Homo sapiens: one gene and its partner. The protein of the gene in region 2 purifies or fractionates together with the protein of the main gene of each other region. This does not show direct contact. Each region holds a gene or a part of one and is shown on either strand. Other genes may lie near its edges. The genes, in order: PLOD2 and COL23A1.

Evidence for each region.
Region 1: the proteins of COL23A1 (region 2) and PLOD2 purify together in Homo sapiens (affinity purification with mass spectrometry; one large-scale study listed by BioGRID and IntAct). This does not show direct contact.

The regions. Positions count from the first base shown.
Region 1 is NC_000003.12:146,081,078-146,084,901, forward strand, and holds part of PLOD2 (procollagen-lysine,2-oxoglutarate 5-dioxygenase 2 isoform 1 precursor), read right to left. Parts: intron 787-3,824; coding exon 661-786; intron 1-660. UniProt on the Homo sapiens protein: Forms hydroxylysine residues in -Xaa-Lys-Gly- sequences in collagens. These hydroxylysines serve as sites of attachment for carbohydrate units and are essential for the stability of the intermolecular collagen cross-links.
Region 2 is NC_000005.10:178,244,251-178,248,074, forward strand, and holds part of COL23A1 (collagen alpha-1(XXIII) chain), read right to left. Parts: intron 3,582-3,824; coding exon 3,525-3,581; intron 3,303-3,524; coding exon 3,276-3,302; intron 2,204-3,275; coding exon 2,141-2,203; intron 2,058-2,140; coding exon 2,004-2,057; intron 1,719-2,003; coding exon 1,692-1,718; intron 1-1,691.

The DNA of each region.
Region 1 (3,824 bases), on a different chromosome or scaffold from region 2:
CATATGTATGAAAAAAAGAATGACATTCTTCTCCAATATTACCTTAGCAAAACTATTTCAATTGTGATTATTTTTAGTAATCAACCATTGTCTCTGAAATAAATATAAATCATGCACACACTTTTCAGCAAATATATTCTTTTCAATCTCTAGAAGTGAAAATCTAATATTGGTAAAAAAAACTTGTATTTAAAGCAGAATAATAGCTATTTCACACAAAAAAACTCATGCAATCAGGAATACTGGAATGTTCTGGCTGTTAGTGTTACTGTTGGCTTAATTATAAATTTTAAAACCTATCAAAACAACCCTTAATTATAACCATTAAAAAGTTAGTAAACTAAATCCCCTTTCCAAGCTTTTAAATAAAGAGTATTACTCTTCTATCAACCATAATGTGAGTATGGTAAACATATATTATCTCTTAGTATTCCCCACAGCAATGAGCTTGTTCCTTTGAAGATTTGGGACTTTAAAAACATTTTTTTAAGATATTAGTTTTATACTAGTATTTCAGGATTCCAAGTGGTCTTGGGTTCTCAAATTCCCATTAACTATAAAGAAAAGAGATGAATGCAAAAAAAATTTCAAGTAATACTAACAAGACTACATCTTTAGATTATGGTATTTCACATTAAAATATTAAACCAAGTAACTTACACTCTATTCCCTTGAACAATATCCACATAATCTTCAGATCGTGCATAGTATCCATCAGGACTCAATGCTCCCCAGAAATTGGACCACAGCTTTCCATGACGAGTTACAAGAGGAGCAATGATCTTTCTAAAGACAGAGAGAGTGTGTGTGAGAGAGAGAAACCTATATAATTATTTATTTTTAAATTACCACAGAATTATGTATTTTGGGCTTAGTATGACATATAACACAAGAAAGCTCATTCAACAAACCTGTAGTTAATAAAAATAAAATAAGGATCTTCTTTCCCAACATCTTTTCTTAAGTAAGTATATTGCTAATTTTCAATCATATTTCTTAAAAAGAGTAACAAAGAAGGAAAAAGTAATTGAAAATGCTAATGAATACATAAAAATGACTTTTAAAAATGCCTTGCTTACATCCAACAGAGGGAAACTACTTTAGTTATTTAATTATATTTAAGTTTAACTAAAGTATTTCGGAACCTATATTAAATGAAACCAAATATTTTCATTGTCACTGGGTGAACAACAGCCCCTGGTGCATTTAAGATATTCAATGAATATTTGTTGAATTTGTAAAAAATGAATGAAGATGAACTGAGATGTTTGTAAACAGGCAAAGCTTTCCTGTAATTAAGTCTCAAATTACTTAAGTATGTTTCCAGTTTTCCATGACTTTAAAAAATGACTTGTGATTACAGTAAGCTAGTCCTGGCAACACTGAACTTTCCTTTAACTATTTTAGAAAGCAAATTTATGGAACAACTATTCTTTATATGAAAAAAGAAAACCTATTTCACCTCTATCTTGTGAAGACCAGCCGGGCCCTTTCTATTACATGCACAAAAGTGAAATAAATAAACACACATCGGGCCCGGCGCAGTGGCTCATGCCTGTAATCCCAGCACTTTGGGAAGCCGAGGCGGGCGGATCACAAGGTCAGGAGTTTGAGACCAGCCTGACCAACATGGTGAAATCCCATCTCTACTAATAATACCAAAAAAAGTTAGCCAGGCATGGTGGCACGCACCTATAATCCCAGCTAATCAAGAGGCTGACACAGGAGAATCGCTTGAACCCGGGAGGCGGAGGTTGCAGTGAGCCAAGATCATGCCACTGCACTCCAGCCTGGGCGACAGAGCAAGACTCCATCTCAAAAAAATAAATAAATAAAAATAAATACACATCATGCAAAATAATAAATTTTGGTTTATTCTTCCGAATTCCTACTAAACTATTAATCAGAAACACATGTTTTGTTTTGTTTTGAATACCTACAATACTGGAAATAATAACATGAATTAGAATCTACATACATTAATTTGGGAAATAATTCAATATGAATATCAAACATTTAATTTAAAAAGAACTTGTAATTTATAATCCCAGCTGCCTCCTGAAAAGGTTTAAACCAACAAATTTGGGAAACCAAAATTCATCTGCTGTATACCTCAATGTTTTTGTGAATAAAAATGTAAGGATGGCAGCTGAGGAATGATTCATATTATTATACAATTTAAGGAGTAAAATTTAGAGCAAGGGAGCAAATAGAGATAGGGAGAGAAGAGGAAAAAAGAGAGCTGATGAGAAGGTAGAAAGCCACATGCCCAAGATGTGTCAAATCTCTTTCTCTACTCTTCAGTCCAATCTACTAAATCTTGCAACATTCCTGGCATATGTCAATAGACTATAGAAACCACATGTCTAGATACAGAAGCAAGAACCATAGGTATTACATAAACCTAAACCTTTGATTAACTAACAGAATTCCATGGAGACACAGCCTGAGTTTTACTCTTTAAGGGGCAAGGGCCCCAGATGGCAGGTAAGTCTTTTTCTTTTTTTTTTTTTTTTTTTTTTGAGACGGAGTCTCGCTGTGTCGCCCAGGCTAGAGTGCAGTGGCGCAATCTTGGCTCACTGCCAGCTCCACCTCCTGGGTTCACACCATTCTCCTGCCTCAGCTTCCCGAGTAGCTGGGACTACAGGTGCCCGCTACCACGCCCGGCTAATTTTTTGTATTTTTAGTAGAGATGGCGTTTCACTGTGTTAGCCAGGATGATCTCGATCTCCTGACCTCGTGATCCACCCACCTTGGCCTCCCAAAGTGCTGGGATTACAGGCGTGAGCCACCACACCCGGCCGGGAATTTTTTTTCTTTTAGAAGATTTAAAATGTTTAATATTAAGAGGGATATATGTCAAATACATAGTGTAAATTCATTAAATAGTTCACTAAGAGAATAATTAATAAATATATAAATTATAGTCATAAAATGAAAATATCTAATTATTAAAAAGCATATGGGCATTACACACTATAGCATTTCAATCAAATTAAGAGAAAACAATGCAAATTCAAGAAAATAGTACTGAATTAAACTAGGTTTTAAGAGTTACAAATCATACACTATTTCATATCTCTAGGGTGTCACAACTGCTTTTCCTTGCCAAATGATCAAAACCTCATTCATATGCTTTGGAAAATTACCTACGATGTATATAGATAGTTAACTTAGATACTGAGTATCTATAACACAGCTATACAGTTGGGCTGTATATACAGGTTGCTACAGAGAGGTCTTAGATTTTTGAAGTAAGAACTAAATTCTCAAATTTACAAATTCTAGTGATATATATATATAGATAGATATTATATATAGGGTGGGTTAATAAAGCATACTACATTTCCCATGTATCTTACTTAACAAAATAAAAACAATCATTCTAACATTTCACCCGCTAAACATTCTATTTATTATGAGAAATAATTGTGTTAATACATGTACTTACAACAATACCTGGCACTTAATAAGCACTTGTTAAAGGTGAGGTCTTAGCAGGAGTAGTAAAAATGGTATTATTAGTATTAGCAGTAGTATTGACAAACAAACTTAGTATCATTGTAAGCTGATATACATGGTGTCTTTTTCCCATTTCAATTGAGTTAAATGAGCAAACAGACACTGTGAAGTGATAACTAGTTCAACAGTAAATAAAGCTACACATATGACTGTGGGATGATTTGTACCTCTGAAATTTCCTTCTGATACTAAGGACTACAACTCTGTATGCAATAACTATCTTGGTCAGAAGTTTTGTGAAATTCTACTTTAAAAATATCTATAGAGAATAAAACAACTCTAAATTTTAGTATCAGATGTAT
Region 2 (3,824 bases):
AGTGCTGGGATTACAGGTGTGAGCCACCGTGCCTGGCCGGTAATGTTCTCTTTTTAAAGTCTAGGGTGGGCACCAGAGTCCTTGCAGCCCTGCATCTGGGCCTATGTCCCTCAAAATAGCTACCTGATTTTCCTGAGAACAACCTCCTTCTCATAACCCATTGATTCCACCCCAGTCCATGGTCTCACTAGTCAGGGCACTGCATTCCTATGGCTAAGTGACAGTTCAGCGTTGACCTAACTGGGACCAGGGAGAGCCCATGAAACTTCCTGTAGAACACTGGAGTTCTACTCTGGAGTCAAATTTTCTTTCTTCTTAGTTTGGGCCTGGCAGGATGCTGGTCTCGAGCTGCTGGCTTTACCTCACCACCACGTGGAACTTGATTTCCACAGGGAAAGCAGACAAGACAGGGTGAAAGGCTGAGTTGTGTTGACACAGTTGAGCCCTGGATCCATGTGTTGAACCTCCAGATTTTTCAGTTATGAGTAATTTTAAGCCAGTTTAAACTATGTTTTCTATGTATGCTACCAGAAGAGACTTGACATAATCAGCCTGGGCTAATACTTCCCTTCCTCTTCTTCTCAAATTACTGCTCTAGCTAAAGCCCTATTATCTGTCACCAGGATATTGCAACAGGCTCCTCACTGCTCTCTTCACTTCCTTGCTACAATGCATCATCCATCCATCCATCCATCCCTCCACTGCCATCATCATCCATCCATCCACTCATCATCTATCATCCATCCATCCATCCATCCCTCCACTGCCATCATCATCCATCCATCCACTCATCATCTATCATCCATCCATCCATCCACTCATCATCTATCATCCATCCATCCGTCCATCCATCCCTCCACTGCCATCATCATCCATCCATCCACTCATCATCTATCATCCATCCATCCGTCCATCCCTCCATCCCTCCACTGCCATCATCATCCATCCATTCACTCATCATCTATCATCCATCCATCCATCCATCCACCCACCCATCCACTCATCATCTATCATCCATCATCCATCCATCCATCCCTCCACTGCCATCATCATCCATCCATCCATCCATCCATCCATCCATCCATCCATCCATCATTCATCTATTATCCATCCATCCATCCATCCATCCATAGTGGATAGATAGATGAATGGATGGATGAGTCCATTCAATCCTCCATCCATTCATCCATCATTCTTCCATTATCCATCCACCCACCCATCCATCCATCATCCATTCATCATCCACCCACCCATCATCCACCCACCCATCATCCACTCATCCATCACCCATCCATCCATTCACCCATCCATCCATTCACCCATCCATCCATTCATTCATCCATCCATTCACCCATCCATCCACCCATCCATCCATTTATCCATCCATCCATCAATCCTGCATTATGCATTCATCCATCCATCGATTCATCCTCCATTGTCCATCCATCCTCCATCTACCAATGTATCCATCCATTTATCCATCCATCAACAATCCATTCATCTATCCACAAAGGACCTACTCTGGGTCGTGCACTGGACTTGGCAATGGGGACACAGGGGGAACCAGTCAGTTGCAGTCCCAGCCCTGGGGAAAGGGGTCACACTTGAGTAGCCAGATCAGGTTACTGCATGAGGGCAGAAGATACACACAAGAGGCACCCAATTACTCAAAGTGATGATAAGACACTTACATCTAGTCCTGGCTCCCCGGGTCTGCCCTGAGGAGAGACACAGAGTGGGTGAGAGGGGTTGGGGAGGGGTGCTGGGAGCACAGCTGCTGGGAAGTCCAGCCCTGTGGGTTGGCCACAGACATGGGGGCAAGGAGACCCACCAACCACGCAGGCATAGATGGAGGCCAGGACAGACCTGGCATCCACAGAGCCTGAACTCTGGCCCTGCGAAGTGCAGGGACCCAGTGAGGTACAGGGTTGGGGTCCCCGGGCTGAGCGCCACCATGACCAGGTGGCCACGGTTGGAGAGGGAGTTCCGAATGAGGCGGTTACCTTCTCTCCTTTGGTTCCTGGCAGCCCAATAAGGCCCGGTGGGCCAACTGGCCCCTGGATAGAAAAGGAATGAGTCAAGAGGCATGCTAGTGACAGGAATTAACACCTTTGGGACAAACAACGCTTGTGAGACTCACAGGCAGGCCGCTGGGGCCTCTCTCACCCGACGCACCCTTCTCTCCCTTTGCTCCATCCAAGCCCTGGAGGCAAAGGAGGGAAATCAGTCAAGGGGAAGGGGTTAGACAGACAGTAGGACAGGCAAGCTTGGAGACTGCAAGGGAGCTGGGATGTGGACAGAGGAACAGATCGAGGCTCCCCCAGGCCTGGCCCCAGCTTACTCCCTGGTGAGGGTGATCAGGAGGAGCTCTGGCCATGCGCATTGCGCCTTTTCCAGAACAGGCTCCCTCAGCCCCATGGAAGGTGATTACGGTCACACCCATTCCAAAGATGAGGAAAGCAGGTGCAGACGGGGGGCGGGGGGGGGGGGACAGGCCCAGCCACACAGCGGGAGGCAGCAGAGCTGGGTCCCCATCAGGCTTCTACGGCAAGCCTTGGACCCTGTCCTGATAGCAGCTGCCTCTTTGAAACATGAACTGTGGTGGCCTTAAGAGAAAGCAGAACCAGAAGCAGAGCACCTGGTGGGGCTGCAGGCTCGGGCCTGGGCTTCCACGATTCTCAGTCCCACATCTGGCCTCTGAGCTGGGGAAGCAGAGATTTGCTCACGCCAGGAGGGTGGTGTGACAAGGAGTGAGGCCAGGTGGCCTCCCCTTCTGTGTCTGCCTCCCTGGGGCAGGGCATGCAGGCAGGCCACACTCGAGGACTTAACGTAAGAGCAGGGAACACGCCATCATGTAATATACACCAAGCCCAAGACTTTGTGCTTAGACTGTGGCAGCTGAGAGACAGATGTGTGTGGGGCGGGCTGGGATGGGGAGAGGTGGGGACAGTGCAAGGAACTGACAGGCACAGACAAAGGAGAAGGGGACAAGCAGTGGAAACGGTGGTGGACCTGAGGAGGAGAGAGGGACAGACTGGGGTCCCGGGCAGAGGGAGAAAGTGGGAGAGGAGAGCCTCAAGGGTGGAGAGGGGGGCATTGGCCTCAACGACATCGGGGAGGTTATGCCCTGGGGACTTGGGACGTTCAGGCGCTGGGAAGACTCAGGGATGGGCCAGGGCGGAGCGTCAGGCCCTTTGCTTTGCCCATTGGCAAGGCTCTTGGAAACTGCCCAGACGGTGAGTCTGAGGCCAGTAGAGGGGTCTGTGCCCACTCACCTTGGGACCCTGGATTCCCTGGAGGCCCTGCAGGAGGAGGAAGCAGATAAGAAGGCTGGCTCCGGACCCTCTTGCAGTGGCCACTCACTGGCCCCTGGGGCCCTGTCCTGGGCTCTGCCCTCTGCCCATGTGCCCCTCCCTGAACGAAGAAGCCCGCTCTCTCCTGGGTCATGGCTCTGGGACCTAGCCCCCACCCCGCCTCTTGGTTTCCTGGCTGCTTCAAACCAAACCAAAGCAAACCGTCCTTACCATCGGGCCTGGGGGGCCAGGGGGGCCAGGGGGCCCTGGCTCCACTATGAGCTGAGCCTAGGGAGGGTGAGAGACAGGTTAGTCACCCACCGCCTGTCACCCTCACCTACCCGCACCCGAGCTCATCGCACACTGCTGGATCGAGAGTCTCCTTCCTGCCCCCCAGAGGGCAGAGTCTGGTGAGCAGGTGGCAGCTGGTCTGCGGAGCTTATAGTGAGCCGAGGTTGTGCCACTGCACTCCAGCCTGGGAGACATGGTGAGACTCTGTTCTCAGAGGGGTCTCGCTCCCCTTACTCTCCC